Homo sapiens: one gene and its partners. The protein of the gene in region 1 purifies or fractionates together with the protein of each later gene. This does not show direct contact. Each region holds a gene or a part of one and is shown on either strand. Other genes may lie near its edges.

What was found.
Region 2: the proteins of NOX5 (region 1) and MTHFR purify together in Homo sapiens (affinity purification with mass spectrometry, with the first as the bait; 2 studies listed by BioGRID). This does not show direct contact.
Region 3: the proteins of NOX5 (region 1) and TTC4 purify together in Homo sapiens (affinity purification with mass spectrometry, with the first as the bait; 2 studies listed by BioGRID). This does not show direct contact.
Region 4: the proteins of NOX5 (region 1) and GUCY1B1 purify together in Homo sapiens (affinity purification with mass spectrometry, with the first as the bait; 2 studies listed by BioGRID). This does not show direct contact.

What each region holds. Positions count from the first base shown.
Region 1 is NC_000015.10:69,031,681-69,038,728, forward strand, and holds part of NOX5 (NADPH oxidase 5), read left to right. Parts: coding exon 1-132; intron 133-1,362; coding exon 1,363-1,597; intron 1,598-3,673; coding exon 3,674-3,827; intron 3,828-4,077; coding exon 4,078-4,256; intron 4,257-5,347; coding exon 5,348-5,530; intron 5,531-7,048. Other genes in the region: SPESP1-NOX5 readthrough, read left to right, coding at 1-132, 1,363-1,597, 3,674-3,827, 4,078-4,256, 5,348-5,530. UniProt on the Homo sapiens protein: Calcium-dependent NADPH oxidase that catalyzes the generation of superoxide from molecular oxygen utilizing NADPH as an electron donor. May play a role in cell growth and apoptosis.
Region 2 is NC_000001.11:11,802,965-11,810,284, reverse strand, and holds the start of MTHFR (methylenetetrahydrofolate reductase (NADPH)), read left to right. Parts: upstream 1-4,320; 5' UTR 4,321-4,397; exon of another isoform or gene 4,398-4,938; intron 4,939-6,747; exon of another isoform or gene 6,748-6,770; coding exon of another isoform or gene 6,771-6,880; intron 6,881-7,155; coding exon of another isoform or gene 7,156-7,168; coding exon 7,169-7,320. Other genes in the region: CLCN6 (H(+)/Cl(-) exchange transporter 6), read right to left, coding at 3,095-3,154, 3,936-4,022. UniProt on the Homo sapiens protein: Catalyzes the conversion of 5,10-methylenetetrahydrofolate to 5-methyltetrahydrofolate, a cosubstrate for homocysteine remethylation to methionine. Represents a key regulatory connection between the folate and methionine cycles.
Region 3 is NC_000001.11:54,739,861-54,743,157, reverse strand, and holds the end of TTC4 (tetratricopeptide repeat protein 4), read right to left. Parts: intron 1,748-3,297; coding exon 1,645-1,747; 3' UTR 501-1,644; downstream 1-500.
Region 4 is NC_000004.12:155,790,020-155,797,067, reverse strand, and holds part of GUCY1B1 (guanylate cyclase soluble subunit beta-1), read right to left. Parts: intron 3,213-7,048; coding exon 2,982-3,212; intron 1,728-2,981; coding exon 1,611-1,727; intron 692-1,610; coding exon 558-691; intron 1-557. UniProt on the Homo sapiens protein: Mediates responses to nitric oxide (NO) by catalyzing the biosynthesis of the signaling molecule cGMP.

The DNA of each region.
Region 1 (7,048 bases):
CGAGAAGCTGGACCAGCTGACGCTGGCGCTCTTCGAATCGGCCGACGCGGACGGCAACGGGGCCATCACCTTCGAGGAGCTCCGGGACGAGCTGCAGCGCTTCCCCGGAGTCATGGAGAACCTGACCATCAGGTACGGCCGGGTCTCGGGCATTGGCACTGTCCACGGCGGCGTTAGACTCCTGGTCGGAAGTGTGGCAGGAACTCACCGCGGATCCACTCTGCCCTACCCCGCCCTGCCCCGCCCCTCCCCAGTTTAGCCCACTCTTGAGTGTACTGCAGGGCAGCTGTCTTCATTGCCTCCACTTCCTGCAGTGTCTCTGCAGAATCAACTCAAGGTCTGAGGCACCTACTGTGTGCTGAGCACTTTTGCATATACCAGTGCATTTTATAGCAATACTCGTTTTACAAAAGGAAATTACTTCGCCTGAAGTAAGTTGCCTAGGATCACACAAATAATTAACAAAGGTATTTATGCAATAAATGTTTGAGCAGCTTCTATGCAGCAGGCACTGTTCTGATTAATGCAGTGAATGAGGTCTCCACCCTGCTGGGGCTCCATTCCAGACGAAGAGACATGTCATTTACACCAATAAACACACAAACTAGAGAAGCACAAAATTAATAAGTGCTGTGGAGAAAATAAGAGTGTAACAGCAAGACCCAAGTCTGTCCGACTCCAGGCTCTGAATAGAGCCGGTTTTGTAGTTCATTCTTCCTGTGTATTAACTTTTTTTTTTTTTTTTTCTGAGACGGAGTCTCACTCTGTCGCCCAGGCTGGGGTGCAGTGGTATGATCTCGGCTCACCGCAACCTCCGCCTCCCGGGTTCAAGCGATTCTCCTGACTCATCCTCCCGAGTAGCTGGTATTATAGGTGCCAGCCACCACGCCCAGCTAGTTTTTGTATTTTTAGTAGAGACGGGGTTTCGCCATCTTGGCCAGGCTGGTCTCGAACTCCTGACCTCAGGTGATCCGCCCGCCTTGGGTTCACAAAGTGTTGGGATTACAGACGTGAGCCACTGCACTGGGCACCTACCTGCCTATTAACTTTCTTGGGGCTTACTTACCAAAACATATTTCAGATTCTTCCATCCTTTTCGACTGCTTCTTTTAAAATTGGAAAGTAAAGAGAAGTAATAAAAATAGCGGTGGTTGTGGCATTAGGCAGACCGGAGTCCCCTTTCAGCTCCGCGGAGCTGTGCGACTGTGACCAAGCCACTTGACCTCTCTGTTTCCTGGTGTGAAGAAAGCCGGCCTGCTTGCCAGACTTGGTCGGCCATAGCTTGAAGGGGGTCTTTAAGTTAAGACACAGGTGGTCCCCGCCCCACCGCTCGCCTCTGAGCGGAACCCGCCTCTCTCGCAGCGCTGCCCACTGGCTGACGGCCCCCGCCCCCCGCCCACGCCCGCGCCGGCCGCGCCAGCTGACCCGCGCCTACTGGCACAACCACCGCAGCCAGCTGTTCTGCCTGGCCACCTATGCAGGCCTCCACGTGCTGCTCTTCGGGCTGGCGGCCAGCGCGCACCGGGACCTCGGCGCCAGCGTCATGGTGGCCAAGGGCTGCGGCCAGTGCCTCAACTTCGACTGCAGCTTCATCGCGGTAGGCTCTGCCAGCACACGGTGCTCTGAAAATGTTAATTAGGAGCCGAGGTGGGCTCCTCCTAGACAGAGCGACCCACAGAGGACACCTGGAATGCCAGGGCAGGGTGGCACCTTAGAAATCAGCTGGGCCAACGCTCAGAGTTGGAGGACGCCGCCCAGAGAGGGACAGTAGCTTGTCCACAGTCACACAGCCAGTAAATAATAACATAACTGGCATTTTTGTGCACTATGCACCAGGCACGGTGCTGAGCACGCTCCATTTGATCTTCACAACTCCCCTATAGTGGACCCCTGTGCAGGAGCACCTTCAAGAGGAAACCCTAGAAGAGGCTTTGAATACCAGACCATGGAGTTGGAATGTGGTTCTCTGGCTCATGGATGAGGCCTCTAAGAGGTGTTTTTTTTTTTCTTTCTTTTTTTTCTTTTTTTTTTTTTTTTGAGACGGAATTTTGCTCTTGTTGCCCAGCTGGAATGGCACGATCTCAGCTCACTGCAACTTTTGCCTCCCGGGTTCAAGCGATCCTCCTGCCTCAGCCTCCCCGTAGCTGGAATTACAGGCAACCGCCACCATGCCCAGCTAATTTTTATATTTTTAGTAGAGATGGGGTTTCACCATTTTGGCCAGGCTGGTCTCGAACTCCTGACCTCAGGTGATCCACCCTCCTCGGCCTCCCAAAGTGCTGGGATTATGGGCATGAGCCACCACGCCTGACCTCTAAGAGTTTTTGATCACACAACTCCTACCATTAAAACAAAAGCCCTCTTATGCTTATATGCATGCTCTATTATCATTAGCTAATAGACTTATGGCACAAAGTAACTACAGGGGAAGATTCATCATTGATGAGCAGGGATGCCCATCTCTAGCTCAGATACGCTTCTGGATATGAGCTTCTCATTAGAGTGGGTTTTATAGGTTTTATTTTAAATTTATTTTTATTATTTTTAATTATTAATCTTAATTTTTGTGGGCACATAGTAGGTGTATATATTTATGGGGTACATGGGATGTTTTGATACATGGGATGTTTCGATACATGCAATGTGTAATAATCACATCTTGCAAAATGGGGTACCCATCCCTAAAGTGGGTTTTGTCTTAATGGCTCAACGAGCTAACAAAGACTTCATTCCAGGAGTGGGAGACGTGTGATTCATTTTCTTGGTCACTTGCTCATGTATTACTAACACAACTGTTAATCTGTGGTTTCTCTGCTGGGAAACTTTTAAAGCTACTTGTCCTTCCTGTGAGGGGTAGTTAGCTTAGTTTTGGTAAAGTCAAATACTGTAACCTACAAGTCCACATCCTTGGCAAACATAAATATACTGAAAGCAAATGAGCAATGAGAGAACCCTGGTTAACCACTCTGGATTTGGCTCCTGCAAGGCACCTCGAGAACTAACACAACACGTGCCCATCTGACATATGGACTAAATGAGGGCACCAAGTCAACAGAGATATTTTATTTATTTATTTATTTATTTGAGACATGGTCTTTGTCACCCAGGCTGGAGTGCAGTGGACTGATCATAGGTTGCTGTAACCTCAAACGCCTGGGCTCAAGCAATCCTGGGCTCAAGCAGTCCTCCTGCCTCAGCCCCCTAAGTAGCTAGGATTACAGGTGTGTGCCACCATGCCCAGCTAATTAAACAATTTTTTTTTTCTATAGAGACAGGGGTCTCGCTGTGTTGCCCAGGCTGGTCTCAAACTCCTAGGCTCCAGTGATCCTACTGTCTCAGCCTTCCAAAGTGCTGAGATTAGTGGAGTGAGCCACTGCGCCTGGCCCATATATTAAATATTAGTAAAAGCATAGATGTTTCTCATGTGTTTAGACAAAAATTAATACAAATAGACATTCTGTAACTTTCTCTTCCCGCCACAATTCTGGAGATCCTCCTCTAGAGACCCCAGGTATGAATCCAGGGAAGCAACAAGGCATGGGGGCAGGGGACTTTGGTGAGTGTCCTGTTCAGAAAGCACAGCTAGCTCAGGAGGATGCAGGGAGGTGGCTGGGAAAAGAGGACAAGGCAGACAGAGAGTGAGGCAGGGCTCTCTCCCACTCTGCCTGGCCAGGTGCTGATGCTCAGACGCTGCCTCACCTGGCTGCGGGCCACGTGGCTGGCTCAAGTCCTACCACTGGACCAGAACATCCAGTTCCACCAGCTTATGGGCTACGTGGTAGTGGGGCTGTCCCTCGTGCACACCGTGGCTCACACTGTGAACTTTGGTGAGTGATCTGGGGCAGGGTTGGGTCGGGGAGAAGCTTGAGCAGCCTCAAGCCCAGAATGCAGGGCCCAGCCCCTGTGTGTACTGCCTGCCCAAAGGGCAGAGAAGGGGTGCCCTGGATAAGCCAACGCTCTGGACAAAAGTTTCTGCCCGTGCTAGTATCTGATGGTGCAGGGTGGGGATCCCAATGGGAAGGTGGAGTGGGAAGAGCTGGTCTTGCAGTCACTCAACCTTTCTGAGCTTGTTTCCAGTACTCCAGGCTCAGGCGGAGGCCAGCCCTTTCCAGTTCTGGGAGCTGCTGCTCACCACGAGGCCTGGCATTGGCTGGGTACACGGTTCGGCCTCCCCGACAGGTGTCGCTCTGCTGCTGCTGCTCCTCCTCATGTTCATCTGCTCCAGTTCCTGCATCCGCAGGAGTGGCCACTTTGAGGTGCCCCAGTTGCTGCCCTTTTGCTTCCCCCAAGGCCAGGGTCCTACTTTCATTTCTTTCTGTGTCCCCTCTGATTTACTCCAGAGCCCAGGAAGGTCCCAAGCTGGTCTGCATATTATTTGCATGTGATTTGGGACCTGCTGCTGTGTTCTGCCACTGGACTGTAGTTTATGTCTGCCAAGTGTAGATGTTTTGCTGCGGAAGAGTCTGCCTTTTTGCTGGCTTATCCCTTTAGCCTATTTGGATTAAGTTGGGCTTAAAACAGTACAGGGAGGGGAAGGAACATAGGCTCAGCAGGTTTTGAATCCCCACTCCACTGCTTACTGGTCGCTCAACCTTTCCAAGCCTCAGTTCTCTCATCTGTAAAATGGAGGTGTAATTCTCTATGTTATTTTAGGAATTATAGGCGATAATACATGTAAAACCACTAACTACATCCTAGCACATAGGTGCTCTGAAAATGTTAGTTCCATCTTTGCTTCTGTCTCTCCAGCCTCCTCAAGATGCAGAAAGTCACAGAGGACTTGGTTTGGAGAGCTTGACTATCTTGTGGCCTGACCACATCAGAAATAGACATATACTGAGCACGTACCTACTCTGGGCCAGCAACAAGCCTTTGAAGTAGGAATCAGAATCCTCATTTGACCCATGAGGAATTTCACACTCAGAAAAGTAATGAAATTGCCCAAGATCACAAAGCTTCAGAAGGTGCTAAAATTGTCTTCTGCTATTTCTTCTCCACTCCCAGGAAGCCATTGCTGTCTTTCCTTTCTTCCTTCTGAGAATGGGTCGGGGGTAGCGATACTGATGCTCATGATCCCTGTGGGGGCAGTCCACTCTGCCCAGAACCTCCCCAGGCAGATATTTCAGATGTTTGCCTCTGGTATCAGGAATCTTCCCTTACAGCCTCCTTTGGCCAAGCACCCAGAAAAAGAAGCTTCCCAGCCCCAACATCTTACCCAACTCCATCCCCGGGAGAGAGTCAAGGCTCTGAGCACTGCCCTGGCTTTGAGGATAACCCTGAGTCCTGGCTCTGTTCCACCCCCCAGGCCTTGAGCTCTGGAAGTTGACTGCCCCCCCTACCCCCATAGGTGTTCTATTGGACTCACCTGTCCTACCTCCTCGTGTGGCTTCTGCTCATCTTTCATGGGCCCAACTTCTGGAAGTGGCTGCTGGTGCCTGGAATCTTGTTTTTCCTGGAGAAGGCCATCGGACTGGCAGTGTCCCGCATGGCAGCCGTGTGCATCATGGAAGTCAACCTCCTCCCCTCCAAGGTACAAAGGTGGGGGATGGGGAGGTGCTTTTCCAACTCACCCCAAGGGACAGTTTGTGGGGTGGAGCAGCTGGATACCCTGTCAGACCCCCAAGGAAATAGAGAATAGTGTAGCTGCAGCCCCATTGCTATGGAGGAGAGAAGCAAAATGCAAGACCCAGTCCAGCCCTCCAGGAGGGAAGCTTTAGGAAGATGAATGGCAGGGCAGGCAATAAACCTCTAAAATCCGATTTTGGGGAGAACAGTCTCCTTCAGCTCAGTAAGCGTTTATTAGTGCCTACAGGGTGCCAGGCCCTGAACTAGGTTACAGAGAAATAGAGAAGGTTCTGCACTGTCCTGCTTTCTAGGGGAGCCAGCCCTTTCATTACAGTGCAGGGCTGTGTTGCTGGAGGTATTAAACCCTTTGTCTTTGGGAGGTCAGAAAAAGCTTCAGAATAAGGGAGAAGATGCCATATCAGGGTTTTGAGGGATGAATAAGAGTTTGTTGGATAGAGAAGACAAGGAAGGGTATTGCTGGCAGGAGGAACAGCACAGTAAAGACACAGAATTGTGAAAGGGTATACTGTGCTTGGGGGACCACAGGTAATTTGGCATAGCTGGAGCCAAGTTGCCAGGAGGAAGCCAGAGAGGTGAGGAAGGCCTGATTATGAAGGGCCTCCTGAGCTGGGAGACCAACCCCGCAGGCCATGGGGAACCCCTGAGCACGCTGGGAGGAGATGGTGGTATTAAGCTGTGACCATTAATATTCTAGTTAGATTTCTTTAGTTGCTCTGTGGAAGGTAGCTTGGAGGGGGCTTGTGGGGAGGTTCTTGCAAATACAAAGATGAGAGTTCATGAGGGCCTTGACACTGAGGCAGTGGCCATGGGATGGAGGCAGGTGCACATCACAGAAAGACTCAAGAAGCAACTGGTTATGTTTTGCGGCAACAGAGAGGATGGAGTCTAGGACGTCTCCCAGGTGTCTGAGAAAAGGAAGGCAGTTCTAGGCGGGCTCAGCTCTGGACACACTGCGTTAGAGGACCTGGGAGGCTGAAGAATGAGGCTGTGCTCTGTGTCTAGGCTCTGGCATCCAACAGCCTCAGCTGCATTCAGATCCCACGGTTTCTTACCCAGTGGCCTTGGGAAGTTATTTAACCTCTCTGAGCCTCCTCTTCTTGTCCCTAAAGTAGAGAGAAAATAATATCCACGTCATACAACTGCTGTGAGGCCTAGAGATAACACAGTGCTCCAAAGCAATTGTCTGGAAAGATGTTGTTATCCAAGGAGAGATGCCCATTGATGGTTAGAATGCTAGCCACACTCTGGCTGAAGTTCCAAGAAAGGGCTGGAGTAGCCAGGGAGGCATCACAGGGATACGTCACAGAGGGTCCACTAAAAAGCAGTGCTTACACCCTGAGAGGCAGGGTAAAACCAGGGGCCCCAATTCAGACACAGCCTGGCTGCCCCCTCTAGGATTGTTGCCCACTTCCAGATTGGCAGGTTGGCTGCTGAGGTGGGCCACCACTCAGAAGCACAGAAG
Region 2 (7,320 bases), on another chromosome or scaffold:
TATAATGAGAATGGATGTCAAAATGGGATTCTAACATTTTGTAAGACCCTAAATTTATCAAATAAAGAGTCAAATATGTGCAATGAACTCTTCCTGAGACAGGAAGAAGGGGCACTTTTTAGAAAGATATTCAACAGAAGGGTTTTCTAGTTGACTGACTATCAAGGTAGAGAAAACCCTATAACTCCATTCATTAAAATATGACTATTAATACCTTACTAAATATCCTTCTACATCCTTACCCACGTTTTTATACACATGCTTTTAACACGTGTTTTAAATAACAAAAATGAGATTCCACTAAATCAACTATTTTAACCTGTCCCACTCACTCCCCTCTTTATTATACTTTTTGTGTCAAGTTGATTTATTTATTGAATAAATAAAATCCAGACTTTTCTGTTTAAGTGCCTGAATTTGTTCTTACACAAAGCAAGTGCTCTCAAGAAGCTCATTCTTGAAGATGGTTGAGAAATATCAATGACCAATATCAAAAGAACATTAACCCATGAAATGTACATGAATATGGCCACGCGTGGTGGCTCACGCTTGTAATCCCAGTACTTTGGGAGGCTGAGGTGGGTGGATCACCTGAGGTCAGGAGTTCAAGACCAGCCTGACCAACATGGTGAAACCCCATCTCTACTAAAAATACAAAACTTAGCCAGGCATGGTGGTGTATGCATGTAGTCCCAGCTACTTGGGAGGCTGAGGTAGGAGAACAGCTTGAACTCAGAGGCGGGGGTGGAGGTCGCAGTGATCCAAGACCGTACCACTGCATTCCAGCCTGGGCGACAGAGTGAGACTCTGTCTCAAACAATGACAAGAACAACAAAAATTTACATGAATATGCATATCAGCTGAAGGCAAGCACATTACAAATGTAAGTACAATTTAGTAGAAGGGGTGAGGGAGCCTGGGTGTCAATGGGGAAGCCTTGGTGAGCTCCTAGAAGTAGGATGAAGGCTGTGAGACAGTCTCAGTCCTGGTGATACAGTCAGGATGATGTAACAGGGTTCAGTGAGGGAGTGCAAGGTGACAGAACAATATGGAGTATCTTATACTAATTCCTGCAAACTTCTCAACTATGTACAAGAAAACAAATACTTACGAAACAGAAGAAAATGGCCAGGTATAGTGGCTCATACCTGTAATCCCAGCACTCTGGGAGACCGAAGCAGTATCACCTGAGGTCAGGAGTTCGAGACCAGCCTGGCCAACATGGTGAAACCCTATCTCTACTAAAAATACAAAAATTAGCCGGGCATGGTGGTGGGCGCCTGTAATCCCATCTACTCGGGAGGCTGGGGCAGAAGAACCGCTTGAACCTAGGGTGGGGTGGAGGTTGCAGTGAGCTGAGATCGAGCCATTGCACTCCAACCTGGGCACTAAGAGTGAGACTCCATCTCAAATTTAAAAAAAAGAAAAAAAAAGAAATAGAACAAAACACAGCAGTGGATACAGTGCTTTTTGGTTCATTCAAAGCAGTCCCATCAGAGTAGCATATTAAACTATACAAACGGCTCCAAATGGCAAAATCTAGACAGTAGAAAATCCCAGGTCCTAATTATGTTGTCAAATAACTTACAAAAAAAAAAAAAAGATGAAGGAAGAAGCTACAGATTAAAAGAGATTTAACAGATTTATCAAACAAATAAAAAAGGACTTTTGGAACCTAATTCAAATAAAGTTAAAATACATATGACATTTACAAGAAAACTGGAAAATCTGGACAGTAGATATTTGATATCAAGAAATTCCTAATTTTTTAGATGTGGTAATAGTATTGGGTTATGCTTTTTAAAAGTCCTTATCCATTAGAGATGCATATAGAATTATGGGTGAAATAATATGATGTACAGAATTTCTTTCAAAATAACATGGGAAGGGCGGCCAGGTATGGTAGATCATGACTGTAATCCCAGAACTTTGGGAGGCTGACATGGGAGGATCGCTGGTGTCAAGGAGTTCGAGAACAGCCTGGGCAACATAGGGAGACTGTCTTTACTTTAAAACACACACACACACACACACACACACACACACACACACACACAAACACACACACACATACAATAAAAAATAATAATATGAGAAAGGAGAAGTGGATAACGAAAGCACAGACAAAAGAAGACTGGGCTTGAGCTAAATCACTGTGGAAGCTGTGTGATGAGGACAAGGGGTTTCAACAGATTATTCTGTTTTTGCATATAGTTGAAATCCTTCATAATAAAAGTTAAACAAAAAAGTGCTACAAATCCTAACGCTGACACTAAATTCTACAGCATGAAGAATTTATGGAAGAGTGAGACTCTGTCAAAAAAAAGAAAAGGTTGTGGAAAATTACCTAATGATACAAAAAGTATAATAAAGGGGGTGAGTGGGACAGGTTAAAATAGATGATTTAGTGGAATCTCATTTTTGTTACTTAAAAAAAGCATGTATCATGTATATAAAAGCATGGGTAAGGATGTAGAAAGATACTTAGTAAGGTGTTAACAGTCATCTTTTAATGAATGGAGTTATAGGCTTTTCTCTACCTTCTTTATTACGTTTAAGAATTTAATGATAAAAAGTCACGCATGTTGTTTCACCCCAGCAGTGTTGGCTTTACTAAAAACACATACTCTAAGAATCCCATACATGAAAGGTGGAACTTAATCAAGAACATGTCAGAGAGAAGCTGCTTGAGCAAGAAAATATCTGAAAAGCAAGCTCTCCTAGAAGAGAAGCAAGGCCTCCTTAACAGTTTATAAGCACACACCTGTTAGGGGCACATACTGCCTGCCAGTGCCTTTCACTCTAAGTCTCTCTGTAAGCTGTAAAAGCAAACAGTTTAATGGCAAATACATACTCTATCCAGGTTAAGGTGCCACAGATTTATAAACGTGTAAAAACACCAGACCTTGTTTTGGGGTTAAGGTGAGAAAAGGGCTTGCTAAACAGTCTCTTTCCTAGAAGGAAGTTCTCTTACCCACTCACTCCCTGGGACAGAAGGTCAAAGAGCATCTCTGGTTGGAATCATAATGCTTCGGCCTGAAGTGACCAGGCCACTCACTACTTTAGTTGCCCAAGCAGTATCAAAGGAGCTCACCTCATAGTCTTTCCTTGGAAGAATCTCATCCTCCTCCTCCTGTGTTTCTCCAAGGATGGTCTAGAAAAACAGATCCGCAGAGGGAGCCTTTTTTAGTGGTTAGGAGTGGAAGGAGGCAGAAGTATTTACTGAAATCAGTGGCTAGCTTCTAAATCATCTGGAGCCATTATCAAATAGGAACCAGCCCTCAAAAAAAACCTTTCAGGGGTGAGGGACCATGTGGGTGAGGATCTACAGCCATCAGCTGAGCTCTTCATTTCCACTGATAGTCTCCAAATAACCACCCTCCTCTTCAGGACACCTCAAAGATGTCCAACGCCAGCTGAAAAGGGGGGTAAAAATGCAGGTTCCATTTGACAGTGTGACGTATCTGAAATCAGAAAGGACTTGTCAACTCTGGGAACACAACTCAAGTTTTCCCAGGATGCTTTGCAGGGGGAAGCTGGACTGTCAGTGACCCAGAAAGGGTGAGGGATAGAGTGAGAAAGGACTGGAGAAGCTAAAACAGCAGCATGATAAGCACAAAGTCCTGTGAGGAAGCTCATTCTGAAAACGCTTGTTTCATTCCAAACTCTTTTCAGATGGAAATAAAAGGAAACATGGGTGGGATTTACTGGAGCTGGCCTGGATTCTCCCTCAGATTCCAGGAGGGGTTATGAGAAAAGACCCCAGACTTAGGCACGTGAAGCAGGGTAGACGCTTCGAGAGCCCTGGCTGCGGTCCCCAGGCCCCACCCGCTGCCACCTGCGGGCCCAGATTGGCCCGGCCCCACCCCCGGCAACGCCTCTCTCAGTCCCTTAGCAACCGCCCCCTCCCCAGGCCGACTCCGCCGGCTTCTTACCAGCTCCTCGGGGGTGCGGGTCTCACGCTCACCGCAGCAGCAGCACCACCTGCAGCAGCAGCACAGAGACCCCCTGCACCCCGCCATCTTCCTCCTTTACTGCCACTCTGGACCCCTCTACCAACCCCCTCCCAGCCAGGATCTGCGCCTCACGTGACTGGCCCCGGGACGGTCACGTGGCCCTCTCGAGCTCTGGGACTGAGACCAGGAGTGGCTGCAGACGGGTGGGGCGAGGACTCGCGTCACATGACGATAAAGGCACGGCCTCCAACGAGACCTGTGGGCACGGCCATGTTGGGGGCGGGGCTTCCGGTCACCCGCGCCGGTGGTTTCCGCCCTGTAGGCCCGCCTCTCCAGCAACCTGACACCTGCGCCGCGCCCCTTCACTGCGTTCCCCGCCCCTGCAGCGGCCACAGTGGTGCGGCCGGCGGCCGAGCGTTCTGAGTCACCCGGGACTGGAGGGTGAGTGACGGCGAGGCCGGGGTCGCCGGGAGGGAGATCCTGGAGCCGGCAAACAACCTCCCGGGGGCAAGGACGTGCTTGTGGGCGGGGAGCGCTGGAGGCCGGCCTGCCTCTCTTCTTGGGGGGGGCTGCCGCCTCCCTTGCGCACCCTTCGCGGGATTAGTGTAACTCCCAATGGCTACCACTTCCAGCGACCGCCAACCCTCAAGCGAAGACTGACTTTGGCTCCCTGCCTGGACGGAGGGGCCCCTGAGCCAGGGGTGACGATCCCGCCCCTCTGACCGGCCCAGGCCCGTGTCCTCGCCCCCATCGGTGACTCAGTGACCTGGTGACTGGATTCTCGGCCACCTGGGCGCCGAGACGGCTTCCGGCTCCTGCCTTTTAAACCTGCCTCCCCGGCGATCACCTGGAGAAGAGCGCTGGGCCCGGGGCACTGCGGTCCCTGGCGCCCACTGCGTCCCGCTGCGCACGGGGGTCCGCCGGGACCTTTCTGGGAGTCGTAGGCTTAGTATCCCAGTGCTTGGCGCAGACTAGTTGTTCAGTAAGTGGCAGAGGCTTATTTTGAGAGAGTGGCAGCACCTGGCCCTTTGGCGCTCAGTGAATGTTGGCTATCACCGTGTGCCAAACTCTGGGGATACCCCAGGCAGGACACCGGTCCTGTCTCAGGGAACTGGGGAAAGAGAAAGGAGACAGGCCTTTTCACCCACAGTTACAACCCAGGGTGCTATGGGAGTCCAGCTGATAACGGATAAATCGTGGGAGTTGGCTTACAAATATGGCACATGCGTGGCATATACTAGGAATGCAATAAGTCTTTGAAAATCAGAGGGTTTACAGGTGGTTCAGCTTCCTCCTACTCTAGGTTCTGTTCCAGCAAGCAATTAACGAGGTGCGCCCTTAAACGCTGGAGGAAAGCCAACTGGCTGCTCTTGCTGTTACTCCTCCCCCCCGCCCCCGTTCCTCACTCCCCACAGCCATCCCCACTGAGAATCTGGAGTTTGAGGTCAGAATGAAAGAGAGCAGCCCTAGAGGGAGAAAGCTTTGGCCCAGGGTTCTTAGTCTGGAATCAACTCCTTGTCTTTGGATGTATCCCCGTGTAGTCTGTGCACCTGTGTGTGTATTTCAGGGGAAGGGAGCAGTGCATTTAATCAGATTGTCAAAAGAGTCTAAGACCCCAAATGGTTAGGTACACAGGGTTAGTGGTGGACAGTCTGAAAGAAATGAACCTCACCTGGGCTTTCCTCTGTTGTGCCATGTCACCACACACCCATTCACTACTGTGTGTTTGCCCATTGCTGTGCAAGTGTTTTGTTTGTTTTTAAGTGTTTGTCTTATTTTCTTAACCAGACTGCCAGATGACCCTATGCCCTCTGTTGGCCTGTCTGTGCCCTGGTGGCTCTGATTACTTGTTTCTGTTTTTTGTTTTTGTTTTTTTTTTTGAGATGGAGTTTTGCTTTTGTCGCCCAGGCTGGAGTGCTATGGCACAATCTTGGTTCACTGCAACCTCTGCCTTCCGGGTTCAAGCGATTCTCCTGCCTCAGCCTCCAGAGTAGCTGGGATTACAGGCGCCCGCCACCAAACCTGGCTAATTTTTATATTTTTAGTAGAGTCGGGATTTCACCATGTTGGCCAGGCTGGTCTCAAACTCCTGGCCTCAGGTGATCCACCCACCTCGGCCTCCCAAAGTGCTGGGATTACAGGTGTGTTTTTTGTTTTTTTAAGAGATGGAGTCTCGCTATGTTGCCCAGGCTGGCCTTGAACTCCTGGGCTCAGGCAATCCTTCTGCCTCAGCCTTCCCAGTAGCTGGGTCACTGTGATGATTTGAATTGAATTCTGTGATGTGTAAGAAGAGCAGCCTGCAAGGCAAGCACAGATGGGGCAGCTTTTGTTCTGAGAAATTCGTGCCCTTACTGAACTTGGGTCTGGCTATTTTTGGAACATGGCCAGCATCAAGTTCTAACCCACAACACGGTCTTTTTGGAGTAGCATGAATTCAGGAGAAATCTGGCTGCATAGTCAAGCCCTCACCCCTTCCATCCTGTGCACGAACTGTTTCAAGTAACAGATGTTCCAGGCAGAGCCAGCCAGAGTGAGCTGTTCCTTCTCTGGAGGGTGATCTGGTATCCCTGAACGCCTGTTGGCCTCATCTCCACCAACCCCTGCAGTCTCTGCCCCTGAGTCCCCCTCCTTCCATCCGCCTCCCCTTACTAGAGCCTCAGCCCTCCCTCCTCGCCTGGAAGCCTTGCCCCCGCCCCCTTGTGCTGGCTGGAGCTCAAGCCTCTTCCTTTGTCGCAGCTCCGCCCAGTTGAACACACCCGCTGGGGAAGGTGCCTCTGTTCCCTCCCCACGCACTCTGGGCCTGAGCTGACAGAGATGGACCATCGAAAAGCCAGGGTCCTCCCAGCTGGGCACTACTGCCCCTCGCTAGGAATATGGGCCTCGCAGGTCGGCAGCGTGAGGTCCTCTGTGCCACCTTCCATCAGGTAGCTGTCACCGAGGAGCATGTTGCAGTGCCGGGTGGGGGCTGCCTTGCATGCAAGGAGCCTGGCAGCAGCGGAGGGCAAGGCTTTGAGTGAGGCGGCCCGGACAGCCATAGCTGAGGAGCATGGAGCCACTGGGAGGGGGCAGTGTCACCTTTTTTGGCCTTCTTCCTGTGTGGAAATACAGCGCCTCCGGCTTGAACCTGCCACTCAGGTGTCTTGATGTGTCGGGGGTGTGGCTGCCTGCCCCCTGATGCTCCCTGCCCCACCCTGTGCAGTAGGAACCCAGCCATGGTGAACGAAGCCAGAGGAAACAGCAGCCTCAACCCCTGCTTGGAGGGCAGTGCCAGCAGTGGCAGTGAGAGCTCCAAAGATAGTTCGAGATGTTCCACCCCGGGCCTGGACCCCGAGCGGCATGAGAGACTCCGGGAGAAGATGAGGCG
Region 3 (3,297 bases), on another chromosome or scaffold:
TGGTCCTCAGGTCCTTAAGTGGCCAAAACCAGGAGTAGGAAGGAGGCTGAACTTCAGCTTCCTAGCCACAAGCCACAGACAGGGACCGGCACCTGGAAGCTGCATGGTTCTTTGTAAATATTCCACAGCCAATTTCCTTTCAAAGACAGTGAGGCACACTACACAAAACTCTAAATTAGTCTACTTTTTTTTTGGTTTGTGTTTGAGACAGAGTTTTGCTCTTGTTGCCCAGGCTGGAGTGCAATGGCACGATCTTGGCTCACTGCAACCTCCGCCCCCCGGGTTCAAGTGATTCTCCTGCCTCAGCCTCCCGAGTAGCCGGGATTACAGATGCCTACCACCACGCCTGGCTAATTTTTGTATTTTTAGTAGACACGGGGTTTGCTATGTTGGTCAGGCTGGTCTCGAACTCCTGACCTCAGGTGATCCACCCACCTCCGCCTCCCAAAGTGTCGGGATTACAGGCGTGAGCCACCGCACCCAGCCTCAAATTAGTCCACTTTTAAGGACAGCAGCTGGCTTCAGTTTACTCATGTATTAGCTCTGCTATAGTAACAACCAACCCCTAAATCTCACTGCTTACTACAGCAAACATTGCTCTCTCATTGCTGTGACACTCAGTGGCTGCAGGCCAGCTGCTGTAGCTCGGCTCCATGGAACGGCTCCTCTGTGGGAAATGTGTTCTCACAGCAGAGGGAAGAGCACAGGCCAACCACACATGACTCTTCAGGCTTCTGTCAGACGCAGGACAGCTCATGCCTGTGCATATCCCTCTGCATTGGGAGCAGGGAAGTACACTCTCCCGGGGGGATGGGGTGGGGGCACTGCAAGAAGTCACACAGCTACAAGTCAGGATGGATAAACTCCTCTTAGGAATGGGGCAACAAACAGCTGCAGACAAAAATATACTCTGTAACAACCCAACATGCTAGAAGATTTTCCAGTTTAAAAGACACAAAATCCTAAATGTCAAAACTGCAGAGGAACTCAAGAGGCCACTGTCCAAAGTCTGTCACAGTCCTCCATATGGCAAAGATGAAGAAAATTGGCAATCTTTTTAGGGGTACCAAGGATCTGAGTTTGTACGGTCTTTATAAATGCAGAGCAAGATGTGGCTTTCCTGCCCCCATTTCACCTCAAGGCATCTTCAGCAACCCCACATGGCTTCCCTCTGTGCGCATGAAATAACTTGAGGCCAGGGTCTCTCAGCTTTAAAGCCTTGGAATCCTATGCATTGTTTGTTTGTGTGTAGATGTGCAGTTTGAGGGGTAGCTTCTCTAAGGTGTCAAACTCCACAAAAGTTCAGAATCATGTCACTGGATCCTGAGTCCATCTCCACAGACCAGGGTGCCGCTCAGGTCAGTTGCTGTGGTAACTGCAGCAGATGGTCCCTTTAGCGATGGAGTCCAAGGACATCATGGCCAAGACCCAGAGTTTTATATCAACTGAGGAAAGTGAAGACCAGCCAGAGAGGCTGCAGTTTAGGGAAGCCAGAGGCTCCTCCCCCACCACGATGCCAGGAAGGACTATCCCCAGGGTGACGGAAAGAAAGCACTGGACTCCAGCAGTATGTCCAGCTGATTCAGGTGTGCTAGGTTCCCAGCAGAGGAGGGTAAGGGAGGAGATCCAGGGGCCCTGGCTTAGTCATCGTATCTGGTACACCTTTCTCCCCCGGAGAAAATTCTTGCAAAAAGGAGAGGATCCTACACAGACCAAAAATGCTGGTGTCAGGGCTTTTACAAAGTACCTGCCGTGAACACAACAAAAGAGAGGGTGTTAATTTAATTACAATCTTAACCATCCATGCACCTTCCTAACAACATGCAAGGTGAGCCTCTGGATGGGAGTCAACATGAAAATGCAAGTTTAGCACAGTTATGTGGTTGTTCATAAATCTGGCAAATTAGCATGACATTCTCATCCTTACAACCTAGCCAGAACCTTTAGGCCAGTCCTCTGGCATCATGCATGTCTGTGGCTAAATATGAAATAAAAATATAAAGCATGGTTTTATTCATTCATTCAACATTCAGTGGTAAGCCAGGCCCTGTGCTGAAAACACAGAGATTAAAAAACCAACACCCACACACCATCATCTTTGTTCTCAAATTCAGTCCTGGAGGGGAGGGAGATGAGGAACCAATTAATGACAGCAAGGCACAACTGCAGAAGCATTTGTGAGGCGCAGCATTATCCCAAGGAGGCACGATTCCCTCTATGAGGAAGGGAATCAAAAAAGGCTTCCTGGAAGATGCCATGTCTGAACTTGGCTTTAATTTGGGGAAGGGGTGGTGATGGGGGTTGGGGAGCAAAAGCCAGGAGGTGCAAGTAACCAGAATGTTTGCTGTGGCTAGGGCACAAAGCAAAAGGAGTCAGGCAGGCTAGAGAGGCAGGGAGGGCTTTGGCCTCCCAGGGATAGGGGTGTTGTATTACTCAGTGGGCCTGCTTTGGGACAGAGGGCCTATTTCGTGGCTCCACCCAGTTTAGGGTCTGAAGTTGCCAGAAACCAGTCCTGGGTAGGCTCTTGCCTATGGTAATAATTTTAAAGGTAGTAACTTCCAACAGCATTTACATTTTCTGAGAAGCATGAAACGGGTTTCCTCCAAGCATCGGTCTGCTTTCTATTTAGATTTCTCCTCTGGGGTAGGGCAGAACTCAGGCCTTTAAAGAATTCTGGGTAATTTGCTAACAACTGAGAAAATGAGCAGCTAAAAATGTGTCCAAAAACTAGAAGAAGAGAGATTTGGGACCAGAGCAAAACACCACCAAAGGTATCAATCAGATCTGGAAAAACCTTTCCTTCCTGCCTACCAAGCCAAAGCATTAAGACTAGCTGGACACCCCTATCACATCACTCAACACTACACCAGCTCCCATCCAATCTACCTCCTAAACCTCTAATCCACCTCCTCCTACTTCAGGCCTCACCACTGAACAGTACACTTCAAATCTTTACATTACTCTGTAATTTTTTTGGGTAGTGGGAGGAGGGGGTCTCACTCTCACCTAGGCTGGAGTGCAGTGGTGTGATCATAGCTCACTGCAGCCTTGAAATGCTGGGCTCAAGCAATCTTCCTGCCTCAGCCTCCCAAATAGCGAGGACTACAGGTGCACAACACCATAAAAAAGATTTCTATAGAGACGGGATCTCGCTGTGTTTCTCAGGATGATCTCTAACTTCTGAGCTCAGGTGATCCTCATGCCTTAGCCTCCCAAAATGCTGGAATTATAGGTATGAGCCACTGTACCCGGCCTATTCTGTACATCTTTTAAAATCTTTTTAATTTTTAAAAATCA
Region 4 (7,048 bases), on another chromosome or scaffold:
TTATTTTTCTCTGACGTTTATTAAAAATCACATTTTACATACATTTTAATTGAATAATATATTTGGAACAGTGTATTTGGATTAGAGTAGGTAAATATTTTTAATTTAAAATAGTTCAAACCCAGAAAGAGACCTTTTAGATTTTTTGCTAACATACTATAGAAAAGATAATTTTTGATGTCAAATATACCAATGTATTTATTATGCCATCCTATTAGCTGCTTTAAAAAATCACTTTTCTACATAATGCCTATTTTGAAGGTCCAAAACTATAGAATTAGCTTAATGCAGATTATTTGTCCCATGGCGTAATGGCATAAACACTCCACAAATGTATTAAGACATGGCAAATAACATAGAGTATGTGATTTCTTCTGAGTTTATTAGCAAATATTAAATAAGATTATCCTTGTTATAAAGTAATACACAACAAGGGCTGTAAAATCTAATTACACCTCAGAGAATATGTAAATTTAATGGAATAAAATATTGTGGCATTCCTTTGTTAGCTAAAGATAGGTACTGATAGCCACTATAATTAATCTAAAAATGATTACCTTGGTGAACATAGAAAAAGTATGCTATCTGCTTCAGGTAAGTAGATCATTTGACCCTTGAGACGTAAGCAGCTGATCTCAGTCCCAGTCAGTTCATCCTCACATTCTAATTTCTCCACATCCAACAATCCTTCCTTGAAAAGGCAAGATACAACCATTAATGAATGCCTTTCTCCCTACCTAAGAATTCAGCAACAAGGACACGCATATCTCATTTCCCACCAAACCACAAAGCAGAATAAGTGCATCATTAGAACAGGAGAGGGCCTTCTGTCAGAGTTCTGCCTGTAATAAGCCTAGTGGCTGCCTTGCAACACTGCAGAAAAGTGACTGTCCCGTCTGAATTCAGGACAGTAACTGTGCTACTCTTCACATAATTATTTCAAGCTTTTGTGAATCTTTTTTATCCCCCTGATTTTCCGGTATGGTTCCAACATACATTACCAGACTCTCAAAGAATAAGCCAAGCCTCCCCATTCTCCCACCCTGTATTCATAGAGCAGCTGCAAACAGTCAGTTCCAAATACAGAAAGGATTCAATGGGTACTCTAGGAAAATGACTTTTGCTGTATCTATCCCAAGAACAGAAACCGTGAGATCCCAGCACTATCTAAATTATCAACTGTGTGAATATTTCATCACTTTTATTCACCCACAAAAACGCTACTAAGAACAATAGACAATTTAAGAAAGAATAAATAAGTGGTTTTGAGTGAAGTTCCAAAAAAAAAAATCCTTTTTAGTTCTGATTTCTAAAATAAGGCACTGTAGCTGTACAGGGAGTAAAAGATGTTGGTTTTTTGATGTGAAACAAGGCCGTCTCAGAAAGACAGTCTCTAAAATTTACCTCTGTTAATTTTAATCAGTTGATAGAGTTCCACTGCTCCTCAGGCAAACCAAAAATCAATGTTATTGCCTTTTAAATAGATCTTCCTTTGAGGTCTGGGTTTTATCTCTCTATACTTTCTCAGAGAATGTGATAATTTTCCCCCCTGAATACTTCTAATTTGTGACATACCTTTCTCACATTTAATGAAATAATATCTTGATTACCTTGCTTCTCAATACAAAAACAGTATTGATGTGAGAAAGGATCCCATGGAAACTAATATCAATATGAGGACGAACCAGCGAGAAGACAGACAGAAGGCTGCAATTCCCAGGCTGGAGCTAAAATATAGATAGAGAGCAAAGAGTATCACATCAGTTAAAATAGTTTTTATACTTTGATATTAATCGCTTGATTAAATCAGCTCAGTTATATTTAAAACTAGAAAATTATAATTATTATAATTCAAGGGAAACTTAGCTGAACTATCAACTCAAATCTCAATCTATACAACTCAGTGATTAAATGGACATTAAATAGTTACAAGAACATGAAATCTGATATGGATTCAGATGACTAATATTCAAATGTAAGCTAGCATAAATTTACAATGCATTTTCAGAAGGAGAAAAAATGAAAATTTATCTTTTAAAATGTACAGTGTTATGTTAAATGTGTATGGCTTGAAATGAAATTAAAATACCAAAAACATGAGCAAACCCTCTCTTAATATTTATCTAGAGGGCTAAAAGTGAAAACAATAGGTAACACTGATTGATTGCTTACAATGAACTAAGTATTTTTCATATGCTTTCTATTCTCATGCCAGAACAAAGAGAAACAGGCTGAGAGAAGTGAAGTAATAAGTTCAAGGTCATACAGTAAGGGACAGGTAGAGTCAATACCAGAGCCAGGACAGCACACTACTCTGCTTCCATTTCACCTGATCCAACTGGGCTAATCCTGAATTTTCAAGTCTCTTTAATTACAAGCAAAAAGTATCTCTAAACGTATGCCATATACAACTCCAAAAGTTAGTATTTAAGAAAAAAAGAGTAAGCATAAAGGATTTTACCAATGGATCTGTCATAGAAGTCAACAGCAGTTTCTCATCATCATCCCAACTGCTTCCTTTGATGCTTTTTCTACTGAATCCATCATCATCTCTATCATTTTGTGTTTTAGTTCTTTTTAAAATCCCCCCTTTTCCCTTAACACCATCAATAGTTGATTTTTAAAGCTATTTACAGATGGTAGATATCCAATGAATATTTATTCAGTGAATAAATAAACATGTGAAAGGTGACTGTTACTAAAAAGTTACCCATTTTTTTTCACTGTAACAAGTATACTATTCTTACATAACATTCCTACTGTTTCTGTATGTGATTATTATAAAAAAATAGTTGTCCTAGGGAAAGTTGTGGTATGCTCAAATACACTTAGTTCACAATTAAACAATTTGTGTAACTTACAATAAACTGCATATTACCTAATACATAGTCAGAGGGTTAAATGAATGGATGGCTGCCTGTAACAATAGTATTTCTATGGGCTTTTGTCTCAGGCCCCAAGGAAGTATGCTGTCATTTTACCTGGGGGAGAACTCTGTATATAGCATTGCCACACTGAGTGACCACTAGGTCCCGGTCAAATATTATATGAAAAGGAAAAGCTTTGCAGAATGTATATGGGCTGATGCGTGATTCCTGGGTACCATTTTCTTCAAATCTGTCAAGATCTTCATAAAAATCCTCTTCTTTTGACTCTTTTTCTTCAATTAAAAATTGAGTATGATCACATTCTTCATTTCTTTGCTGAATAACCTGGATATCAAAGGGGGAAATGGCATGAATTGTCTTCATTTCAGTTTAATAAAAATACCTAAATATAAAAAATGAGTTATGAATACTGCATTTAGAAGATTAATTACAAAAATTCAAAACATATATGCAAATACTCCATATGTCTAAAATAGGAAAATATTTCTGGACTTTGATCTATAAAATTTGAAGATTGAATAATCATTGTAAAATTACAAATCTGGTATCAGTTCCCCAGTATCCTATATGGTCTCTTTGGTAGAATTAGAAAAAAAAAGCACTTGTGGGCTCTGCCTTCTTAGCCAAGCACACTTGTATAGTGAACAACCTGAAAGCCAGCTAAAAGCAAGCTAGCACTATCAAATAAGATTACAATACTATTTTAAAACAATGGGAAATAAAATGATAGAGATTCATATTCAAAAATAAATGCAATGTCATTTTTAACCATCAACTATCAAATACATAAAGTTACAATACCAGGCCAGGTGCAGTGGCTCACGCCTGTAATCCTAGCACTTTGGGAGGGTGGGGCGGACAGGTCACCTGAGGTCAGGAGTTTGAAACCAGCCTGGCCAACATGGCAAAACCCCATCTCTACTAAAAATACAAAAATTAGCCAGGCGCAGTGGTGGGTGCCTATAATCCCAGCTACTCGGGAAGCTGAGGCAGTAGAATTGCTTGAACCTGGGGAGGCAGAGGTTGTAGTGAGACGAGATCATGCCATTGCATTCCAGCCTGGGCGACAGAACGAGACTCTGTCTCAAAAAAAGAAAAAAAAGTTACAATATTAAATTGGGTAAGGTACTGAAAAAGAGGCATCTCAAATACCACTGATGAGGGGGTATTTTGATTAATCTTTCTGAAGGATAAATTGACAATAGGCATAAAAATTCCTTAAAATTTTGTGGATTCTTTGATTTAATTGCAAATCTAGGAATTCATTCTAAAGAAGTAATCGTAATTGTGAGCTAATATCTATAATGTAAAAAAATCCTACTTTTCTAAAGTATTATTCACAGGCAAATACATTATTAAAGTATAGATTTTCCTCTTCTTTTTGGGTTAAGAAATTGCAAGCAATGAGCCCTCTTACAAAGGGAAAACTCGATCTCAACGGCAACCAGACCCAAAACAGAAAAAGTTTGGGACAACATTTCTTCAGTTACAGCTAAATAAAAACAAAATGTTGTTCATTTTTCTTTTCTTTTTTTTTTTTCAGGAGTACCCTGTCGCATTCTCTGCAATTTTTAAAAACAAATCACAATAACTATAGATGCTATTGTATATATTCTTTTAGATATATTTTGTAGCAAAACTGGGATGTTACTACCTCACTGTCAGAATAACTTACTATACTGGTTAAATATTAGTATCCTTATTTATAATTTGAAAATTTTACCACATTAAGGTTGATTTCCCTAACTCATAGACAAGGCAAGAGAGTCAACCTTAAATGACAGGCCTACTTTTGATGTTCTACTCTGTTTCTATTTAACTAGAGAAATTGAATTATATGTATCCTAAACTTATGAATTAATTATTCAATTCTAATTTTTTTGCTTTGATCAAACTGGCAAAACAAATAGCTTTTCTAATCATATTTTTAACTTCTCATTGGTATATCACTTTATGACATGATCTAGTATTAACCATGTGGTTCAAATTGTCTGGTATCTCTGGACCTGATAAACTTAATGTGAGAATCCCTCGAGAAGTCAAAACAGTGCTTTTGAAAAAATTAAACACATAAAATATACCTATAAAATGCAAATATTTCAGAAGTTCATATTGAAGCACTTGAATAAATGGTCAGAAGAGAATTTAAATATTTTATAAAGTGAACCATATAATTAAGTAAATACTTGAATTTCATACAGTTTGCTAAAGCCATCAATCTCCCATGCCAAAGATTCTAATACCACAGTAATAGTAGTTTCCAAGTGTGTCCTAATTTGTGTTTCTTTCTGAAGTTTCTACGAACCTACCTCTTTCTCAGTCTGGTTAAATAAAAATAAAACCAACAGTGCATACAATATGCATATACGTTCACTCAGTATAGATGCTGTGTTTTTTTTTGTTTTTCGTTTTGTTTTGCTTTATTTTTTTTTTTTTCTCTATTTTTTTGATAATGGAGTCTCACCCTGTCAACCAGACTGGAGTGCAGTGGCGAAATTTCGGCTCACTGCAACCTGTGCCTCCCGGGTTCAAGCGATTCTTCTGCCTCAGCCTCCCGAGTAGCTGGGATTATAGGCGCCCGCCACCACGCCTGGCTATTTTTTTAGTATTTTTAGTAGAGACGGGGTTTCACCGTGTTAGCCAGGATGGTCTCAATCTCCTGACCTCGTGATCCCCCCGCCTTGGCCTCCCAAAGTGCTAGGATTACAGGCGTGAGCCACTGCGCCCAGGCGATACTGTTAGTTTAATGTCAAGAACAAAAGACTGGCCGGGCGCGGTGGCTCACGCCTGTAATCCCAGCACTTTGGAAGGCCGAGCCGGGCGGATCATGAGGTCAGGAGAGAGAGACCATCCTGGCTAACACGGTGAAACCCCGTCTCTACTAAAAATACAAAAAAATTAGCCGGGCGTGGTGGTGGGGGCCTGTAGTCCCAGCTACTTGGGAGGCTGAGGCAGGAGAATGGCGTGAACCCGGGAGGTGGAGCTTGCAGTGAGCGGAGATCGCGCCACTGCACTCCAGCCTGGGAGACAGAGTGAGACTCTGTCTCAAAAAAAAAAAAAGATTGGAAATGTGAGGTATATACTATTTTGATTGAATACCAGTGAGATTCCCAATCATGGATGAATTGTGATACTTTACCCAAGGCTTTAATTTTTAAATGTCTGCATTTGATAATGCCATGTTATACACAGTCCTACTTTCTATTAGGTTGGTGCAACAGTAATCGTGGTTTCCGCCATTACTAATGGTTGTAGAAAACTAACGATGCACCTGGAAATCACCAAAAGGTGCCACGTAAGAACTAACACCAACTTCTGAAAGAAAGAAAACCATGAACTCTAACATAACTTTACTAGATTAAATATGTGGAATATCTTTCTAATTTATTTAAATGTTACTATTTTAATTTTGGATAATACTCCACTTAAGGGTTTTAGACCTCCCAAGTGTGTTACAATATATCTATGATCTATAAGAAAGAACTGTCTAATAGGTTTTCTATAAACAAAGAAAGGTTGGAAAAAGGTATCTATCTCCCCACTTTGGCCTCAAGTTTAAAGCTACTGAGAATTGACTCTTGGGTATGAACATGCTGAACACATAAAAAGCAGCCTGACTGGGAGAAACCGTAAGGGCCAGAGGTAAAGAGAAACAGTGGTTCTCTTTGTTGTACGGTTGCCCTATCAGTACCTTGAAATCATCACTCAAAACTAAGAGTGTGTATTATCAATAACAGCACAATTTTTAAAGTACCAGACCTGGCTTCTTTCACCAAGTAACTTGATTAAAAACAAAAACAAAAACAAACACTTTCATTCACAAAATTAGACATTCCAACTATATTTCGGGGCAGACAAAAATCGACAAAGAGAAAATGATCTATAAAATAATACTTAATTTTATATTGCCTTAGAATTTGACTATCCATATTATGGATATTTTGCATGCTGAAACCCACAGCTCAGTCGTCACATATCCTTCTGCTTCCCAGCTGGTGTGTGTTCACAGGGAATGCAAAGTAAATTTCTTGTAGCCTTGAACACTATATAATTAGAAAGAAAAATCTGCTGCCAGAAGGAAAAAAATATCCTGTATAATGCACTCCCAGGCCAAATATAGAAGATTGCTGGTCTTTCCACTGTTTTGGCTTATATATACT